3 linked regions of the Homo sapiens genome follow. The protein of the gene in region 3 purifies or fractionates together with the protein of the main gene of each other region. This does not show direct contact. Each region holds a gene or a part of one and is shown on either strand. Other genes may lie near its edges. The genes, in order: PRUNE1, LANCL2 and GMFG.

Region 1 (7,111 bases), on a different chromosome or scaffold from region 3:
ACTCCTGCCCTCAGGTCATCCGCTCTCGCCTCGGCCTCCCAAAGTGCTAGGATTACAGGTGTGAGCCACCAAGCCTGGCCCACAGTATTTTATTTTAGTATTTTGTATTTTTTATTTAATAGACTAGGGATGGGGTCTTGCTATGTTGCCCAGGCTGGTCTCCAAATCCTGGTCTCAAGCAATCCTCCTGCTTCAGCCTCCGAAAGTGCTGGGATTCATACACAGTGTTTTATTTATTTTATTTTACTTTAATTTTTTTTTTTTTGAAATGGATTCTTGCTCTGTTACCCAGGCTGGAGTACAGTGGCACGATCTTAGCTCACTGCAACCTTCGCCTCCCAGATTCAAGCAATTCTCTTGCTTCAGCCTCCTGAGTAGCTGGGATTACAGGCACCTGCCATCATGCCCAGCTAATTTTTGTATTTTTAGTAGAGACGGGGTTTCGCCATATTGGCCAGGCTGGTCTCAAACTCCTGAGCTCAGGTGATCTGCCCAGCTCAGCCTCCCAAAGTTCTGGGATTACAGGCATGAGCTACCATACCCAGCCATACACAGTATTTTAAAAACAGAGGAAACAGTTTAGATTGTATATTTCATTTTATTATTAAAGTAACTAAAGCGAAGTAAGATGGTTGTGAGTAAAATCATGCAGATGATGGCAGTTAAACCAGAACCGAGGAACCCCAGCTTCTAATCTAGTGTCGTTTCCAAGTGTATAAATGTGCTCAAGAACTTGAACTAGGATGGAACTAGAATTTATCTAGAGGCCAGAAGAGGGATGGAGGAAGAAAGAATGAATTGAACAAAATAAGACTGGTATCACTATTACCCTCACTTACATGCAGGGAAACTGAGGCTTCAATGATCAGGTAACTTGCCTAAGGTCATAATTTGCATGAAGCAAAACTGACACTGAGCCCAGAGCTGTCACCAAAGCCAGTGTTCTAAATCAATATATTATACTACCCCTAACATAGGAGAAAGAGAGGAGATGGTAGAGTAGACTGTAAGAAAAGGACTCCTGGCTGGGCATAGTGGCCCACACCTGCAATTCCAGAACTCTGGGAAGCTGAGGCTGGTGGATCACTTGAGTCCAGGAGTTCGAGACCAGCCTGGGCAACATAGCGAGACTCTGTCCCTACAAAAAATACAAAAAAAATTAGCTAGCCATGGTGGTGTGCCTGTAGCCGCAGCTACTTGGGAGGCTGGGAGGATTGCTTGAACCCGGGAGGCAGAGGTTGCAGTGAGCTGAGATAGTGCCATTGTACCACTCCAGCCTGGTCAACAGAGTGAGACATCTCAAAAAAAAAAAAAAACACACACACACACACACAAAAACAAAACAGAGAGAGAAGGACTCCTGTTTCCAAGCATAGGGGCAACCTAGACAATGGTAGAGTCATTAGAAATCCACACAGCTTTAAAAGAGCAGCACAGAGGGGAGAAGATTCAGGAACGTGGAAGAGGTACTTCTAATGGCCAAAGCACCCTTTTCTTACTGACAGGATTAGTAAGAGCCACTATTTACAAAGTGCTTACTCTGCTCCAGGAGTGTGCTTTACACATGATATTACGTTTAATGATCATAGCAGAATTAGCAGTAGGTACTATTATGCCATTTCCAGATGCAGAAGTCAACTGACTTGCCTTAGCTCAAAGAGTGAGTAAGAGGCAAACCTAGAACAGAAAAGCACATCTACCTGACTTTAAAAACTGCAGTTCTTGGCCAGGTGCAGTGGCTCAGGCTTGTAATTCCAGCACTTCGGAAGGCCAAGGCAGGTGGATCACTTGAGGTCAGGAGTTCGAGACCTGCCTGGCTAACATGGTGAAACCCCATCTCTACTAAAAATACAAAAATTAGTCAGGCATGGTGGCAGGCGCCTGTAGTCCCAGCTACAGGCTGAGGTGGGAGAACTGACTGAACCTGGGAGGTGGCGGTTGCAGTGAGCCAAGATCACACCACTGTACTCAAGCCTGGGCGACAGAGTGAGACTCCATCTTAAAAAACAAACAAACAGACAAAACTGCAGTTCTTTTCATAATGACGAACTACCTTACACTGAATGAAATCAGATTTGCTTCCTGGGGAGAAGGCAAAGGCAAAGGGGGGCGGGAAAGGACAGACATACCTTCTATGAGAGCAAAGGATTATCTGGCTGTATTCTGTCTTTAGCAGTCCTCACAGAGCCTAGGCAACCCTCAGAATCCCTGAACTGCCTTAAGCCCACCTTTTTTTTTTTTTTTTTTGGAGACGGAGTCTTGCTCTGTTGGCAGGATGGAGTACAGTGGCGCAATCTCGGCTCACTGCAACCTCTGCTTGCCGAGGTTCAAGAGATTCTCCTGCCTCAGCCTCCTGAGTAGCTGGGACTATAGGCACGCACCACCACGCCCAGCTAATTTCCGTATTTTTAAAAGAGATGGGGTTTCACCATGTTGGCCAGGATGGTCTTGATCTCTTGCTCTCGTGATCTGCCCGCCTCAGCTTCCCAAAGTGCTGGGATTACAGGTGTGAGCCACCGCACCCAGCCTTAAGCCCACTTTTAAATTCTTCCCTAGGCTAATCAGTAACCAGCAGAGGAACAGAAGGGGGAGGAAGTAGGAAAGATAGCCAAATCTGGATCTAGATCACTTCTTTACAGAGTTTGCACTATACAGAATAATTAATCCCTGCATAGTAAGTAGCAGAAAAGGTCTCTCGTATTTCTAATTTTCAAGGCAACAGCATAATTCCAGGGGTGAGGAATTAATGATTAAACCAAGAATAGAGTTTTTGTTTTTTTTTTTCCCCAACAGAGATGAGGTCTTGCTATCTTTGCCCAGGCTGGACTCAAACTTTCCAGCTCGGCTGGGCGCGGTGGCTCACGCCTGTAATCCCAGCACTTTGGGAGGCCAAGGCGGGCGGATCACGAGGTCAGGAGATCGAGACTATCCTGGCTAACACGGTGAAACCCCGTCTCTACTAAAAATACAAAAAATTAGCCGGGCGTGGTGGCGGGCGCCTGTAGTCCCAGCTACTCGGGAGGCTGAGGCAGGACAATGGCGTTAACCCAGGAGGCAGAGCTTGCAGTGAGCCGAGATTGTGCCACTGCACCCCAGCCTGGGCAACAGCACAAGACTGTCTCAAAAAAAAAAAAAAAAAAAAAACTTTCCAGCTTAAGCAATCCTTCTGCATCAGCCTCCCGAGTTGCTGGGACTACAGGCACGTGCCACTGTCCCTAGCTCAAGAAGGGAATTTTAACTCCGGATTTATAACATTTCCTTCTAACTAGATTTCGTTCTTTCAAAGTAGGAATTGAATCTCTAGTTCTCTTTGGAATTCCCCCTTTCTCAACAATGCTATGATTAAGGATGTTCATTAAAAAAAAAAAAAGGATATTCATATAGAGAGAGAATGGGAAAAAGCAGAAAGGGGAGGAAACAGGTCCAGAAACAGGTCAAGGGACCTCATGTAAGTACATTAATATAAGAACCTAAGAGAGGTCCTTATAGGACAGCTGTAGAGCACAGAGGTACATACAGGCAGACTCTGTAAGGCTCTTAGGTTGGAGAAGGGACACAGACTCACCGTTGTTTGGAGTGCCACATGGGGACAGAAAATAGCCAACTGCCGCACTGGCTCATTGTGAGTGTTGAAAAAGATAGTCATGGCAACCAGGACATCATAGCTGTGAGCCTGGCAGAAAGCATGGAGATCTGCAAGGAGGTTAGACCTCTGCAGAAAGGCCTGAAAGGGAAGAAACGGAGAGGGATGAAGGACTTTCTCATCATCATCAATAAAACATCCTTGGGCCGGGCACGGTCGCTTACGCCTATAATCCTAGCACTTTGGGAGGCCGAGGCAGGTGATCACTTGAGGTCAGGAGTTCGAGACCAGCCTAGCCAACATGGTGAAACCCTGTCTCTGGTAAAAATACAAAAATTAGCCGGGCATGGGGGCATATGCCTGTAATCCCAGCTACTCAGGAGGCTGAGGCAGGAGAATCGCTTGAACCAGGGAGGCGGAAGTTGCAGTGAGCTGAGATTGCGCCATTGCACTCCAGCCTGGGGGACAAGAGCGAAACTCCGTCTCAAAAAACAAAAACAAAACAAAACAAAACAAAAAATTAGCTGGGCATGCCGGCACGCACCAGTAATCCCAGCTACTAGGGAGGCTGAGGCAGGAGAATTACTTGAACCCGGGAGGCAGAGGTTGCAGTGAGCTGAGATCATGCCATTCCACTCCATCCTGGGCAACAGAATAAGACTCAGGCTCAAAACAAACAAACAAACAAACATACATACATAACTGCTAGAGGTTTTTTGAGCATAGGAGATAGTACTTCAGTTAGGGTGGTCAGGAAAAACCTCCCAAAACAAGAGACATCTGAGCTGAGTACCTGAATGTTAAGAAGGAGCCAGCTTTACAAAGAAAAAAGCTCAGCTGGGAATGAGCTTAATGGTTCTGAGGAACAGAAAAGAAACCAGTGTGGCTGCAGTACTGTAGAACAGGAGTGGAGCTGGAATGAGATGAGGCCAGAGAAAAAGACAAGGGCCAGATCAAGCATGGCGCTGTAAACCACAGTAAGTCCTTTAGATTTTATTAAAAATACAATGAGGCCGGGCACAGTGGCTCACGCCTATAATCCCAGAACTTCGGAGGCCAAAAGGAGAACTGCTTGAGGCCAGGAGTTTGAGACCAGCCTGGGCAACATAGTGAGACCCCATCGACACATACATACACGCGCGCGCACACACACACACACACACACACACACACACACACTAGTTAGGTGTGGTGGTGTGCACCTGTGGACCCAGCTACTCGAGAGGCTAAGGTGGGAGGATTGCTTGAGCCTGGAAGGTTGAGGCTGCAGTGAGCCATGATGGTACCACTGTACTCTAGCCTGGCAACAAAGCATGACTCCCTTAAAAAAAAAAAAAAAAAATTAAAAAAGACCACTCTGGCTGCTGCGGGGAGAATGGTTTGTAGGGCTGCAAAAGCAGAGGCAGGGACACCAGTACTGAGGCTAATACAGCGGTGCAGTGAGAGATGCTGGACTCTGGTGGTCACAGTGGAGGTAGAGACAAAGATAGACACAAGATACATTTTGGAGGTGAGCCAGGAATGAGGTGCAAGGCCACATGCATAACATGCATAGCTAAAGGCTTTCTCTCCCCACCCACAGCCACAACTTGCTCTTACCTCCAAATCCATATATATTGCACTAATGGCCACCTTGACGCCTTGTCTATAGATAGTCTTCTGGTCTTTTCTCAGCATCTGCTCAGTGGTCAGTCCTAGAAAGCAGATGAGAGACTAGGGGTCAAACAGGGTAGGCCAGGGTCCCAAGACCAAGAAGGCAAGGACAGCCAGATGGGTCAAGGAAGGAAAAACAGCCTCTCTTTGGGGCAATGAATGGGGGAGATAATTGAAAATGTAATCATAGCCGGGCGCGGTGACTCAGGCCTGTAATCCCAGCACTTTGGGAGGCTGAGGTGGGCGGATCACCTGAGGTCAGGAGTTTGGGACCAGCCTGGTCAACATGATGAAACTCTGTCTCTACTAAAAATACAAAGAATTAGCTGGGTGTGGTGGCGGGCACTTGTAATCCCAGCTACTCAGGAGGCTGAAGCAGGAGAATCACTTGAACCTGGACTCTGTCTCAAAAAAAAAAAAAAAAAAGAAAGAAAGAAAATGTAATCACATAATCAAAAGCCATCTTAAATAACTGGTGACAATAGGTACCTTTAGAGCAAGTAACTTTGGAGAGAAGGATGAAACCCAGAACAGAGGCTTTTACTTTTTATCTTTCCCTCTTCCTATACTGTTTACATGTGAGTTCTTTCTTTCTTTCTTCCTTTTTATGTCAACAGGTGGTAGCTGAGTACAAGAATACAGTTTTTTTTGGGTTCTCTTCATCTTTTGTTTACTCACAAAATATTTCTTTTGCCTCCCTAACCAATTCTATAGATTTCACTCTGATAATTTAGTATACTCTCAGCATATTTTATATATATGTCCTGTATTCTCTGAATAGACTGGAACCTATGAGGCTCTTTTTGTTTTTTTTTGAGACGGAGTTTCGCTGTCGTTGCCCAAGCTGGAGTACAATGGCGCAATCTCGGCTCACTGCAACCTCCACTTCCCGGGTTCAAGCGATTTTCCTGCCTCAGCCTCCTGAGTAGATGGGATTACAGGCACACACCACCACGCTCAGCTAATTTTTCGTATTTTTAGTAGAAACGGAGTTTCACCATGTTAGCTAGGCTGGTCTTGAACTCCTGACCTCAGGTGATCTGCCCACCTCGGCCTCCCAAAGTGTTGGGATTACAGGCGTGAGCCACTGCGTCTGGCCCTTCTGAGGCTCTTAATACATTCCTCCTCATCCTAACCAAGAGCCAGGATAGAACAATCCAGTAAATGACTGATTATTTCATGCTTAGGCTAATATGGTACTTCATTTCTTTCTGGTATAAAATTTAAATAATTGGCCAGGCGCGGTGGCTCATGCCTGTAATCCCAGCACTTTGGGAGGCCCAGGCGGGCAGATCACCTGAGCTTCAGAGTTCAAGACCAGCCTGGTCAACATGGTGAAACCCGATCTTTACTAAAAATACCAAAATTAGCTGGGCGTGGTGGTGGGCGCCTGTAATCCCAGCTACTCGGGAGGCTGAGGCAGGAGAATCGCTTGAACCCAGGAGGTCGAGGTTGCAGTGTGCCAAGATTGTGCCACTGCACTCTAGCCTGGGTGGCAGAGCAAGACTCTGTCTCAAAAAAAAAAAAATAATATAATGAACAAGGCTTGCCTTTCTGTTTTCTTATCTGGGAGGCAGAAAAGTCAGCTAACATTTCATACCTGATACATCAAACTTTGCCTTTTGTAGGGAATCAAATATATCATTTCTCTTGGGTAGGTCTGGGAAAAGGGCCTCTAGTTTCTCCACATATTTGCTGTCCTTTGGGGTTGCCTTTCCAATTTTAAGGTCCATGTTGACACAGTCCAGGATGATGGTTCCTGTGGAGAAGGGAGATGGTGGAACTTGAATCCTGTGACCCTTCACACACAACCACCAGAACATATATAACCTTCACACCAAATGGACACACACAAGGAGATTTGTATAGCAAAAT
Region 2 (7,797 bases), on a different chromosome or scaffold from region 3:
CAGGAGTCCTCACTCCTGTCTATATGGTCCAGCTGGAAGACGAGTAAGACTGACATCCACTCACTTAAGAGGAATTCTCACCCATTCTTAGAGGGCAGCCTTACCCATAGTTTCAACAATGTCAAAATGCCTCACACTAAGCCCAACATCCCATGAGAGATGGACACATGCCAGGCAGGGGGATGGTTTCTGTGCTATTATCTGCTTGGGACACCAGATAGTGAAGTAGCTAGCCAGCACATTCTTTATAAAAGGAGAAGCTGCATCAAATGAAGTCCAGGCTGTGTCAAAAGAAGCCTATTTCTTTGCATGGAGAAGTAAGAAAATAATCACGTAGGCGGGGCGCGGTGGCTCACGCCTGTAATCCCAGCACTTTGGGAGGCCGAGATGGGTGGATCACGAGGTCAGGAGATCGAGACCATCCTGGCTAACATGGTGAAACCCCGTCTCTACTAAAAATACAAAAAAATTAGCTGGGCGTGGTGGTGGGAGCCTGTAGTCCCAGCTACTCAGGAGGTTGAGGCAGGAGAATGGTGTGAACCTGGGAGACGGAGCTTGCAGTGAGCCGCGATCGTGCCACTGCACTCCAGCCTGGGCAACAGAGCGAGACTCCACCTCAAAAGAAAAGAAAAGAAAAGAAAATAATCATGTAGGTAAAGGCAGAAACAGCAACCTGAGACCTGAGGCAGTACCTTATGGCACTTGTTAAGGAAAAATACTTTTGGATGTTTTAGAGGAAAGATCTGACCGCTGCAGCTGCTCTTTGTGCCAGGTAAAGCAGATCCCACTAACCTGTGTATACTGTGAACAGTAGCATAGTAACTCATATTGCACTGGCTCATTGCCTGCAAACCAGTCTCCTCCCAAATCTTAAGAGTTGTCCTGGTATGTGTCTTATGTTCATGAACAGGTCTACTCCCTGAGTGCTGCCACTGCTCTTCAGGGTGCCATACTGTCTCTGTCATGCTGACAGGCATGATGGCCGCAGCACCAGAACCCTCAGAGTCCCCATACATGTGGTCTGCAGTGAGGTGGTGAAAATGTAGTTATTGGCAGAGCAGTTCCTTCACTCAGCATGAGTACCTTCTCTTCTGCTACCACCCTTCCACAGGTGGTACTGTGGACAGAGACCCTGTTTTCTATTCTTTCATGATCAGTCAGGTGCGGCCACAATGGGGACACGGGGGAGGCACAGAAAAGTTGACTGTGCTTCCAGGTCCTAGAGAGGCAGTCACTGTGCACCATGAAGGGGCCACCCTGCAAAGGGAGGGGCTCCACCACGTGGAAGGAGAGCAGAGGGAGTGGGGACCTGTGGGCCAATGCTGTCACTGGGGGTCAGGGTGGACACAAGCAAAAAGCAGGCGGGGCTTCATCGGTGTGTTGAGCGTCTCAATATTACAGGAAAATTATTCAATGTCAACTGTTAAAGCACAGGGTCTTAATTTGTTTTCTGTTGCTTATAATATAATACCTGAAACTAGGTAATTTATAAAGAAAGGGAATTTATTTTTTACAGTTTTGGAGTTGGAGAAGTCCAAGGTCAAAGGGCCACACATGGCGAGGGCCTTCTTGTTGATGGGGAGTCTCTGCAGAGTTTCCAGGCAGCACAGAGCACCCCATGGTAAGGGGTTGAGTGTGCCAGCTCAGGTCTCTCTTCTTCATATAGAGCCACAGTCCCACTCCGAGACAACCTGCTAATCCCTTCGTCCACGAATGGATTACTGTCACACTGGGGATTAAGTCTCAACATGACTTTTAGAGAGGAAAAACATTCACACCATTCACAGCACAGGGTAAGGCTGACTTTATTGAGACCTTAACGGTATGGGGACCACCACGATGGGATTTTGCAGTGTGGGAGAAAGATTGAGCTTAATTCCCAATACAAGTGGAAATGGATAGCCAAGAAGCAAGGTGGGGGTGACTGGATGGAAAATTACTAAGAGATAACATGAAGGGGAAGGTGGGTACTGACTAATCTTACCTAATAGGCTTCTTGCTGAACACAGGCCAGGTTGATCCAACATCACCTAGGGGATAGTGAGGGATAGGGAACCTGGTCAAATAATGGGGGTGATCACATATTAGGGGGTGGTTCTTCCTAAAGTGACTTAGCAAGGCTGTTTGCTAAAACTGGATTTTATAAGGAAGTGTGCAGATGGGCCTTGGAGGAGATTCAGGAACCTGACTAGTTTGGTAGAACAAAGAATCTCTGTCACTAGGTCACAGTCCGGGAGGGCAGGAAGGGGAACTGTGGCAGGGCCAGCTCACCACACTGGGGCATCTGGTCACCTGGGCGGGGTGGGGGAGAGGGGGGCTCACTGCCTGTTTTCCGTGTTGAGGCTGCAGGGAAGCGTGAAGTTTTGAAATACATAATACAGGCCCCACGTGGTTCTGACCCAGCACCACGCAGTTCTCAGAACCACACATTCTAGCCCTGCAAGCACCTGAGGCTTGGTTCCCGGGCCAGAGGCTGGTACCTGACTCTGGGGTAAAGAGGAGAGCCGGGGCTGTCTGCGGGGCCTCAGGGCTCGGCGATGGCTGAACCCCACAGTGAGAGCCCTCGTGCCCCAGGTTTTCCATCGTCTTCCTCTCACCTTTGGGGCGCTCCAGATAAGAAGTGGCGTTTCTCAGGGAGGCGCCCCCACCTCAGCTCCTCCTGTCTCAGGCCCCACTTGGTGGGGAGCCGCCGCAGGCGGGGAGCCCGGGCTTGCCCCTGCGGGCAGTCACCGCTGCCCTGTGCCCCGAAACCACCCTCCCCGCCCCCCAGTGACCTCCCACCTCCGGGGTTCCTCTCCGCCTTGCTGCCTGCTTTGGCTTTAGAAGGGAGCTCAAGCTCAGCGGCTTTTGGGGCAGCCACGTTAGGTGCTGGGGAATGGAAGAGGATGACACTGCCTATTTTGACTCAGATCTTCAAGGATGAGCACACCCTCCCCTGGTAGCAACTTCTGCACCCGCCGGCCACCCCGTAGGGCCCTGCCCCGCACCGCACCCGGTGGCCTCCCCGGAGGGCCGTGACCCAAGCACCGCACCCGGCGGCTTCCCCAGGTGCTGCTCCGCCCAGTGCCCCCCCAGATCTCAACGTGGTGCCACAATGCCGCCCTCTCGCACATCGTGTCCTTGGACTATGTCTTCCTTTGAAAGGTCAGTTGCCAGGGGCCCTCACGACTCCTTGGGTGTGCTTTGGGCCGGCATGTATGTCCTCTTGCCCTTCTCTTACACAGAAGAGTGGGGAGGGTGTCCTAAGAATTTGGCTTGTCCTAAGGAAAATAAAGTTGTAATTTCAAGGCACTGACCAAGGTCTCTGTACTACTCAAGAGCTCAAGAGTGGCCACGGGGGAAGATAGCCCTGGGTGTAAAAGGGCCGCAGAAGGGAATCCCCTGTGCTCTGCATTAAAAAACCCCCAGGGGACAGGAGGCTGAAGAAAGGGAACCTACCACTTCTCCATAAAATAGTGTCAGTGAGCTGTCCAGGAGGGCAGGGGATCTGCCGATAAGAGAGCATTTAGGAAAATATGCCGACTCCTTAAATTGGGTTTCGATTTTTCAGCTTTTGAAAATATTGGTTTTCTTTAGGACAGGTTTCTGTACTTGCCAACAGTTGCCAGTTATCCACCAGCAGACTGCAGGAAGAAGAGACAATCTTCACCTCCCTCCTGGGTAGGGAGAGCTGAGAATTCACTAGGCTTAGCCTAACAAAGCCCGCAGTGGACGTTTCTGCTGTACCTGTCCAAGGCGTGATAGTTCCCCAGACTTTGGGGAATATCACCGTGGGTTATTTTGTCTAGTTAAGTCCCTGTGGTGGGATAAGGATGGCTCCTAGAGCATGTCGGCATCAGTAGTTCCTGGAGTGGATTTTCCTACACCGTCTAGGTATGAAAATTTGGTGGGAGAAAAGACCCCAGGAAAGGGGAAAGCAGGAAAGTGGAGCTAAGGGATGCTGCTATAACACTCATCCTGTTGTATCTGTTCTGTTTCCCTGAACTTTGAAGATAGTTATGCTGAGTACCCCCTTTAAAATGATTTTCTTCTACACTGTACCTTCCCATGGTCATGTTCTTGGTGGGGTGTGTTTCACATGTCCAGCCCTGTGGGGTTGGGGGGACACTAGAAGAGGTAGTGGGAAGCCAGACTTTCCCACATCATTCCACCGAGGCCACGGAGGCAGGAGGAACCGAGCCTTCCCTGTGCTCGGCACTGTGTTTTTCTTCATCATGTCACTTTTTACATTAACGTGTATTTTTGCTTGCTTCCAGAAAAGCACCTACATCAGCTATGCTGTAATCCTTGCTTTTCTCACCCAATAACTGGGAATCCCCAGAGAGCCAAAACTATCTTTTTAATCTCTTATTTCTTCATCACCTAGTACCATTTGGTGCTCAATCAACGTTTACTGAGCGGAAGAAAACGGAAATAAGACATTTTCCTCAAGGAGCAGAAATCATTACACGTATTTGGTCCAAACAAATAAAAATAAAGAGAACCAATGAAGACTGAAGTAAACCACATCACGATTACATAAATGTAAAGATCTGGTTGCTTGTGTCCTTTTTATAATACATACTATGATCTTTGCCAATTAACACTGGAGGACTCTTTCTGGTCGATAAAATGTTTGGATAATTAAGTATGCTTTCATTTTATGTCCCGGTATCAAAGATGTCCATTTATTCAAAACAAAGGGAGTGAACATAAAACATAAAAAGAAAAAAAAAAAGGCCTGTGGCTCCTCCTCCCAGACACCCCCCTCCAACAGTGATGAATAGGAGGGACTGTCTCCCTCCCCCATCCCTCGGAGACTAGCCTTGCAGTGTTTTAGACTGTTTTGAAATTCTGTTCTTTAGAAGAGATTTTTTTTTTCTTCTTAATATCAAACAAAGAACTGCTGCTATTCCTTTGGGCTGGCGCAGCAGGGGCCGGTGAAATGCAGGCTGACGACGGCGCGCCAGGGGCTGAGCTCGCCCCGGTCGGCGACGCGCACACACCTTGAGTGACAGCGACCTCTTCTCTACAGGTTTTCCCCGCGGGAGCGTGGCCCTAGCGGGCGTTCGGTTTTCTTTGGAAATCGCGGAGGGGGCTGGCCGGGCGCAGCGATCCCCACCCCGGGACTCCAGCCCCGGCCGTGCGCGTCGCCGCGGACGGGCTCTGCGGGCCACGGGGAAGGTGCGAGGAGGCGCGAGCAGGCTGTGAGCCGCTGGGCGCTCCCGCGAGCCCGCTCCTCTCCGTCGGGAGCAGGGCAAAGGCGCCAGGAACAGGGCAGAGGCACAGCGCCCACCGCCTCTGCGGCCGCCTGATGTGCGAGCAGCCCGCGACGAGGCAGTGCACGCTCAGACGCCCCGCTCCTCCCGCCAGCGCGCGGCCTCGCTCCTCCTAGAGGACGCTCTCTGCGCGGGCCCTCGGAGGAGGCGGCGGCGGGGCGAGCTGCAGCGCCGGGACAGGAGGTTTGTCCCCGCCCGCGCGCCGTACCGCGGCGGAGATGGGCGAGACCATGTCAAAGAGGCTGAAGCTCCACCTGGGAGGGGAGGCAGAAATGGAGGAACGGGCGTTCGTCAACCCCTTCCCGGACTACGAGGCCGCCGCCGGGGCGCTGCTCGCCTCCGGAGCGGCCGAAGAGACAGGCTGTGTTCGTCCCCCGGCGACCACGGATGAGCCCGGCCTCCCTTTTCATCAGGACGGGAAGGTGAGTCGGCGGCCTGGCCGCAGAGGCGCCGGAGGGGGAGCGCGGCGGTGGTAGCGTCCACCTTCCGCCAGGCGTGACGTCACAGGCGCGCGCCGGGCTTGGGAGGGCGCGGGATGATAGCGCCTAGCACCTGTCTCCGGGCCTTCCCGATGAGCCGCGCTTAGGGTCCGTGGGCTTCAGCTGCATGAACCACGTTCCAGCAGTTCGGCCCTCCTGGCCCCAACGCGCCTTTGAAATACGCGGACAGTGCGCTTTCCTTCTTGGCCCGAGCGGCGCTTCGCAATGCGGGCTTGTGCACTCGTGAGGCCCGCGGACACCTCCCGCCCCTGCGCGGCGGAGCGCTCCGCCGGCTACCTGCTCCTCAGAAGTGGCCTGGAGGCTGGATTTCCTTGGCCATATCTGGTCCCTGGGCTCTCGCCGACAAAGAAGCATTGTCCGTACTGTCTGTGTGCCCAGAAATGGGAAGCGGGTGTAAGGGGAGGCCAAACTTGACTTTCTTAGTGTCGCGAGGTGGGTCAGAGCGTTACATTGACATAAAACAGATTAACAACAGAAAAACATACATCTCTTGAATATGTTTTACGTGAAAAAGACACAAAGAAATGGCAAAACCCAAATACTTTTGTGCTAGGCAGAACCAAGAGCGGCAGCTGTGGGAGAGTAAAGTGTGCGGGGAGGCTAATGGAAGATGGAACTGCTTGAACCACGTCTAGGTAGAAATCTCCGCCTTGCTCGGCTCTGGTGCCGAGTGTTTCTTTGTTCCTGGTGTAGGGAGGCCATGTTTTACAGGAGTTTTCTCTTGTTTCATGAAGAAAAGGGGGCAGTTTAGAGCACTCTTCTGTTTTTCAAGTGCTTTTAGCTTAAAATAATCCTTATGCCAGAGACATATTTTTGGGATGGCATACCCTGTCACCCTTCACGGGCTATCTGAACAGAATCTAACGTGGGAGGCAAAAAGTGGGAATAAAACAGAAGATTGAATATCAGCACAACTGTTTTCATGCTTGGTAAAACCGTACCTTTACCAGGTTTTCTTTTTCCACTGAGGTACGTGTTCCAATGGCCACTTCACCTCCTTGGATCTCCATGTATTTCATATTTGGCTAAAACTAAGAAGGTAATTTTGAAAGAGCCATTGGTCTGAATATGGAATCTAAGGCAAGTGACTTCTGTAAACCTCTCTCTTCTTGAATGTGGTTAAAAACTCGAAACAGGCCGGGCGCGGTGGCTCACGCCAGTAATCCCAGCACTTTGGGAGGCCGAAGCGGGCTGATTGCTTGAGCCCAGCAGTTCGAGACCAGCCTGGCCAACATGGCAAAACACCGTCTCTACAAAAGAAAAATACAAAAATTAGCCGAGCGTGGTGGTGGACGCCTGTTCAGCTACTCAGGAGGCCGAGGTATGAGAATCGCTTGAGCCTCGGAGGTCGAGGTTGCAGTGAGTGGAGATTGCGCCATTGCACTCCAGCCTGGGCGACAGAGCTAGACGCAGTCTCAAAAACCAAAAGCAAGCAAACCTGTGGGAACAAGTCCTAACTGATGGGGATGTGTCTGAATTAGATGAAGCATATAAATTGCCTAGCAAACTGCCTGATGTGGTACCTTAAGAAAGGCCTCAATAAATGTTAATCTCTTCCCCTTGATGATTTAAGTTACACGGTTTAGATTCATATTCAATATTGGTTTTTCTCTAGATTTCTTCTATTTTTACATACAAATATGTGTTTCATTTGTGACTTAGTGTTTCATTTTTTAATAACAAAAATAAAAATCTGGCAAGCATTGAAAAAACTGCATCATTCATTCTTATTACCAGTGGCCATCTCAGTACTATCCTTGGAGTAGGTAGGTTACAGCAATGCTTAGTGAAAGATGAATGAAATGAACTCTTGACATGAGAATAACAAAAATAATGTTAGAGACATGGGAAGCAGGTGAGTTTCATTTGCAGCCTCACAGGAGATAAACACTAATTCAACTCAAAGTTTTGAAATTGGGTATTTTTCTTTTTAGCCTTTGTATCTGGATAAATGTGATTTTTGACCTCAGTTATATACCTGATTTATGTTGAAAAGAAAATTAGACTACAAGTAACTAATGGGGCTTGTGATATCTCTG
Region 3 (5,296 bases):
CTTCAGCTTCCCCAGCCCTGGGTGTTCAGGCCTACCTGACCGTACAAACCATCCACCCCCCAGCAGCTCCTGAGATCCTGAAGCAATTACGTTCAAACCTCTTCGGCCTTTAAATTCTTCCTATCTAAGGGCTCAGCTGAGAAAAGTCGCATTCGGTGATGCCTCCTACCCCCCAGAGGTGGGGAGTGGGGGAGGAAACGGGCACTTTGCCTCCTTTATTCTCAGGGGTCCTTGTTCCCCTTGGGAGTGACCGCTCTGTAGATCCAGATATTTCCCCAATACCTCCAGGAGACCCAGGCCTCGCCCATCCGTCCCCCACCCCCCAAGGAAATCCTTCAGGCCCTTCCCTTTCTTTCTAAGAAAGAGGTATCCTCCTTCCCTCCCGGGACCCAGCTCGCATTCCTCTAGGTCAGCCCGCCCCCTGCTGGCCCAAGCCTCGTACTGCAGGAACCGTCGGCTAGAGCCCAGAAGAGGCAGAAACTGAGTCCAAACTGAGGATCTCCGAGTTTTTGCATTTTAAAATTTATTTAAAGTCTTGGTTGTTCAGGTCCTAGGGGTTCCAAGTCCCCAGTCACCTTGAGGACTCAGACATCAGGAATTCAGTCCCCAGCCCAGAGATCAACGAAAGAAAGACAACTTTTCTTGGAGCCAGGCCTCAGTGAGGTCATCAGTGGTGCGGATTTCGAACACCTGGGCAGAGAGAGGTCTCGGCATTATGATCTACTCAAACACTGAGACAGTGGCTGGGCACGGTGGCTCACCTGTAAGAGAGCACTTTGGGAGGCTGAGGTGGGTGGATCACTTAAGGTCAGGAGTTCGAGACCAGCCTGGCCAATATGGTGAAACCCTGACTCTACTAAAAATACAAAAAGTAGCCAGGTGTGGTGGCGTGTGCCTGTCGTCCCACTACTTGGGAGGCTGAGGCAGGAGAATTGCTTGAACCCAGGAGGAGGAGGTTGCAGTGAGCCGAGGTTGTGCCACTGCACTCCAGCCTGGATGACAGAGCGAGACCCAGTTCTTTAAAAAAACAAAAACAAAAACAAAAACCACTGAGACAGTGAGGACTCTAGTCCCTCTTCCCTCAGACCCAGGACCCACACCACCTCTCCCTAACACTCTGGAGCCCCATCCCAGTCTGAACCTTTGTGAGCTCTGCTGTCTGCACCAGCCTGTTTTTACTCCCTGCATACATCATCTGTTGTTCCGGCTTGCAGCCTGCGTGGAAAAGAGGAGAAAGGCACATCAGTGGGGACCCAGGCGTGTTCTCTAAAGCTCTAGTAATGTCCTGAAGGCCCTGCAGCTTGCCAAGGGTCCTAGGAGCTCTTCTAAGGAGGTCCCTGCACTGTACTCAGTTTCTAGGTTGGCTTGGGGGCTTCAAGTTATTCTGAGGGTCTCTGGAGATGATTTAGGGGCCAGACGGGGATTTCTAGGTGAAAGGAAAAGGTGGGTTGGCTTAGGCCCCAGGACTGAGAACGGGTGGGCTCTTGGTGAATCTGAGCCCCCACCTCCACTTCACTGCCCTCCCACATCATGCGTGCGACACACACACATCCTCACCCAGTCACACACAGGCTGTCACATGCTCACACTCTTACACAAGTGCCTGCACACATTCGCATTTACACACAAACACACACACACAGAATCGAAGACCCTCTCCTGAGGACAGTAGAGCTGTGTCTCACCCACAGGGCTGGAGAAGATGAAACACAAAGGGTAGGACACTCGGCCATCGTCATGCACGTACTTGTAGCTGTAAACCACGAACCTACCGTGAAAGGGAATTGAAAATCAGGACTCTGGCCTGCAGCCCAGGCTTAACAGCCATTACCTGAGTCCACAGCCTTGAAATGTTGGCTGAGTCTGAGAACCCAGGGTTGATGTCTGGGACTCAGGGTACTGACCTCAAACACAACAAATGATTAAAAAATAATCATAGGGCCGGGCGCAGGACTCACACCTATAATCCCAGCACTTTGGGAGGCCGAGGCGGGTGGATCACCTGAGATCAGGAGTTCGAGACCAGCCTGGCCAACATGGTGAAACCTCGTCTCTACTAAAAATACAAAAATTAGCCTGGAGTAGTGGTGGGCGCCTGTAATCCCAGCTAGTCAGGAGGCTGAGGCAGGAGAATCGCTTGAACTCAGGAGGCAGAGGTTGCAGTGAGCCAAGATCACGCCATTGCACTCCAGCGTGGGTGACAAAAGTGGAACTCCATCTCAAATAATAATAATAATGATAGTGCTCATTTGACTCACAATTACTTTATAATATAGGTGCTATTAATATCCCCATCGTACAGATGAGAAAACTGAGGCCCAAAGTCACTTGCCTAAGGTTCTACAGATAGGGGAGAGATTTGAACCTGGGAAAGTGAATGCCAGCGTGTAAGTTCTCACCCCCTATGCAATTCTGTCCAGTGCACTTGAACCCCAGGTGCACTGTGACCAGTGATGGCTACAGAATCATCCAAGCCCGGTATAAAATGAAAATGTGGGGCATCTTGTTCAAGAAGCAGGAAAATTGTTTTCCTTTCTTTTGTAGTCTCTCTCTAGACTGATCATCGTCTTTTTTTTTTACTGTTATTAGAGACAGGGCCTCACTCTGTTGCCCAGGCTGGAGTGCAATGGTGCGATCCTAGCTCACTGCAGTCTTGAACTCCTGGGCTCAAGCAATCCTCCTATCTCAGCCTCCAGAGTAGCTGGGAGTATAGGTGCACACCACCATGCCCAGCTAATTTTTTTTTTTTTTTTTTTGAGACAGGGTCTCACTTTGTCACCCAGGTTGGAGTACAGGGACGTGGTCTCAGCTCATTGCAGCCTCGACCTCCCAGGTTCAGGTGATCCTCCTGCCTCAGCCCCCCAAGTAGCTGAGATTACAGGGGCGTGCCACCACATCCAGCTAATGTTTTTTGTGTTTTTTGCAGAGACAGAGTTTCACCATGTTGCCCAGGCTGGTCTCGAACTCCTGAGCTCAAGTGATCTGTCCACCTCAGCCTCCCAAAGTGCTGGGATTACAGGCATGAGCCACTGCGCCTGGCCTTTTTTTAAAAAATTTTAGTAGAAATGGGGGTCTTGTTATGTTGCCCAGGCTGGTCTTGAACTCCTGGCCACAAGCAGTACTCCCACCTCAGACTCCCAAAGTGCTGAGATTACAGGTGTGAGCCACTGCGCTCAGCCTGTCTTTTTTAGTTTGCTATTTAAAGTCGTGCTCCCTCGGGCATGAGGATATGCGCAGGCAGAGTGCAGATGCTCACAGGAACACCCTGTAACTTGTCAGGCAAGGGGTGCCTTCTGGACCCTGACCCTCCCTACACCAGCAGGAAACCCAAGGACAGCAGCGGTCACTGGGTGGGTGCAGAGAGTGGGTGGCTGAGAACCTGTTCAGGGAGGCAGCCAGGTGGTGGACTGCCTGTGAACCTAGCTCCAAACCCCAGCACATTTGTGTGAAGTCCATTGTCCCATCTGACTTCATACAAAACAGAAATTCAAAGATAAAACTATAAAGAAGGTGACCGTTAACCCCCATGTGTGAGGCCCCCTCCTGGGTGCGGGGCCCTGTGCAATTATCATATGCCCATGAAGCTGGTCCTTGTTGAGTCCTACAGCCTCTAATCCTAGAGACCCAAAATGAATTCAGTCAAGATGAAAAATCTTAGCAGACCAGTTTTCACAGAAATAGTCAAAGAGCTCTTCCACCAAAAAAAGCACCAGGCTCATGTGACTTCGCCCAGGATTCTACCTGATAGTTAAAAGTCGAGTCATTCCTTTAGCAGGGTGCAGTGGCAGTGCCTGTAGTCCCAGTTACTTGGGAGGCTGAGGCAGGAGGATGGCTTGAGCCCAGGAGTTAGAGGCTACAGTGAGCCAGGATCACAGCACTGCCCAATAGCCTGGGTGACACAGTGAGACCCTGTCTCTAAAAATTTTTTTAATAAAATAACAATAATAATAATTAATTTGTTTGCTACCTAAAGTGTTCCCAAACATTGAAAAAGAAGGAAAATTTCTTTTTTTGTTTTTTTGAGACAGGGTCTTGCTCTGTCACCCAGGCTGGAGTACAGGGGTGCTATCTTGGCTCACTTGCAGCCTCAGCTTCCTGAACTCAACTGACCCCCGACATCAGCCTCCCAAGTAGCTGGAACCACAGGCACATGCCACCATGCCTGGCTAATTTTTTTTTTTTTTAATAGAGACAAGGTCCTCCACCAGGCGCGGTGGCTCACGCCTGTAATCCCAGCACTTTGGGAGGCCGAAGCAGGGATCACCTGAGGTTAGGAGTTCGAGACCAGCCTGGCCAACATGTCTCTACTAAAAATACAAAAATTATCCAGACATGGTGGTGGGCCCCTGTAATCCCAGCTACTCAGGAGGCTGAGGCCAGAGAATCGCTTGAACCCAGGAGGCGGAGGTTGCAGTGAGTCAAGATCGCGCCACTGCACTCCAACCTGGGCAACAGAGCGAGACTCTGTCTCTAACAAAAAAAAAAAAAAAATAGAGACAAGGTCTTGCTATGTTGCCCAGGCTAGTCTCGAACTCCTGGCCTCAGGTGATCCTCCCGCCTCAGGCTCCCAAAGGGCTGAGATTACAGGTGGGAGTCATAGTACCTGGCCAAAATTTCATTTTTAAAAAATGATGCCAGCGTAATGTTGAAACAAAAACTCAACAAAGTTTGTACAAAAAAAAAAAAAAGACTCTTAAACCGGTATCATAAATAATCGGTATAAAATTCTGCAATAAAATATTGCTATACAAACAAAAAGTTCTAGAGTATGAACTCTTGGCCTCAAACACAGAGATTCTTTTTTTTTTTTTTTTTTTTGAGATAGAGTCTCGCTGTGTCACCCAGGCTGGAGTGCAGTGGTGTGATCTCAGCTCACTGCAGCCTCTGCCTGCCAGGTTCAAGCGATTCTCGTGCCTCAGCCTCCCAAGTAGCTGGGATTACAGTCACATGCCACCACGCCCAGTTAATTTTTGTATTTTTAGTAGAGACGGGATTTCACCATGTTGGTCAGGCTAGTCTTGAACTCCTGACCTCAAGTGATCCACCCTCCTTGACCTCCCAAAGTGCTGGGATTACAGGGATGAGCCACCTCACTCGGCCAAACACAGAGATTCAAAGTCCATGAATAGGGCTGGAACTCCAGCAGTCCCTTAGCCTATACCTCCAACATCACCCCTCCCCTCATGGCCTGATCCAACCCTTTCTTCCCCCAGGATACCTGGGCTGTCTCTCCGGCAACTCCATTTTGAGCTCCTCTGGGGAAATGTTCTGAGGCAAGAAAACAGAAGAAAAGACA

What was found.
Region 1: the proteins of GMFG (region 3) and PRUNE1 purify together in Homo sapiens (affinity purification with mass spectrometry; 2 studies listed by BioGRID and IntAct, with this or other methods). This does not show direct contact.
Region 2: the proteins of GMFG (region 3) and LANCL2 purify together in Homo sapiens (affinity purification with mass spectrometry; 2 studies listed by BioGRID and IntAct, with this or other methods). This does not show direct contact.

The regions. Positions count from the first base shown.
Region 1 is NC_000001.11:151,025,399-151,032,509, reverse strand, and holds part of PRUNE1 (exopolyphosphatase PRUNE1), read right to left. Parts: intron 6,996-7,111; coding exon 6,837-6,995; intron 5,278-6,836; coding exon 5,183-5,277; intron 3,725-5,182; coding exon 3,566-3,724; intron 1-3,565. UniProt on the Homo sapiens protein: Phosphodiesterase (PDE) that has higher activity toward cAMP than cGMP, as substrate. Plays a role in cell proliferation, migration and differentiation, and acts as a negative regulator of NME1. Plays a role in the regulation of neurogenesis.
Region 2 is NC_000007.14:55,360,550-55,368,346, forward strand, and holds the start of LANCL2 (lanC-like protein 2), read left to right. Parts: upstream 1-4,787; 5' UTR 4,788-5,476; coding exon 5,477-5,680; intron 5,681-5,805; exon of another isoform or gene 5,806-6,190; intron 6,191-7,797. UniProt on the Homo sapiens protein: Necessary for abscisic acid (ABA) binding on the cell membrane and activation of the ABA signaling pathway in granulocytes.
Region 3 is NC_000019.10:39,327,859-39,333,154, forward strand, and holds the end of GMFG (glia maturation factor gamma), read right to left. Parts: intron 5,269-5,296; coding exon 5,219-5,268; intron 1,769-5,218; coding exon 1,686-1,768; intron 1,216-1,685; coding exon 1,142-1,215; intron 691-1,141; coding exon 619-690; 3' UTR 501-618; downstream 1-500.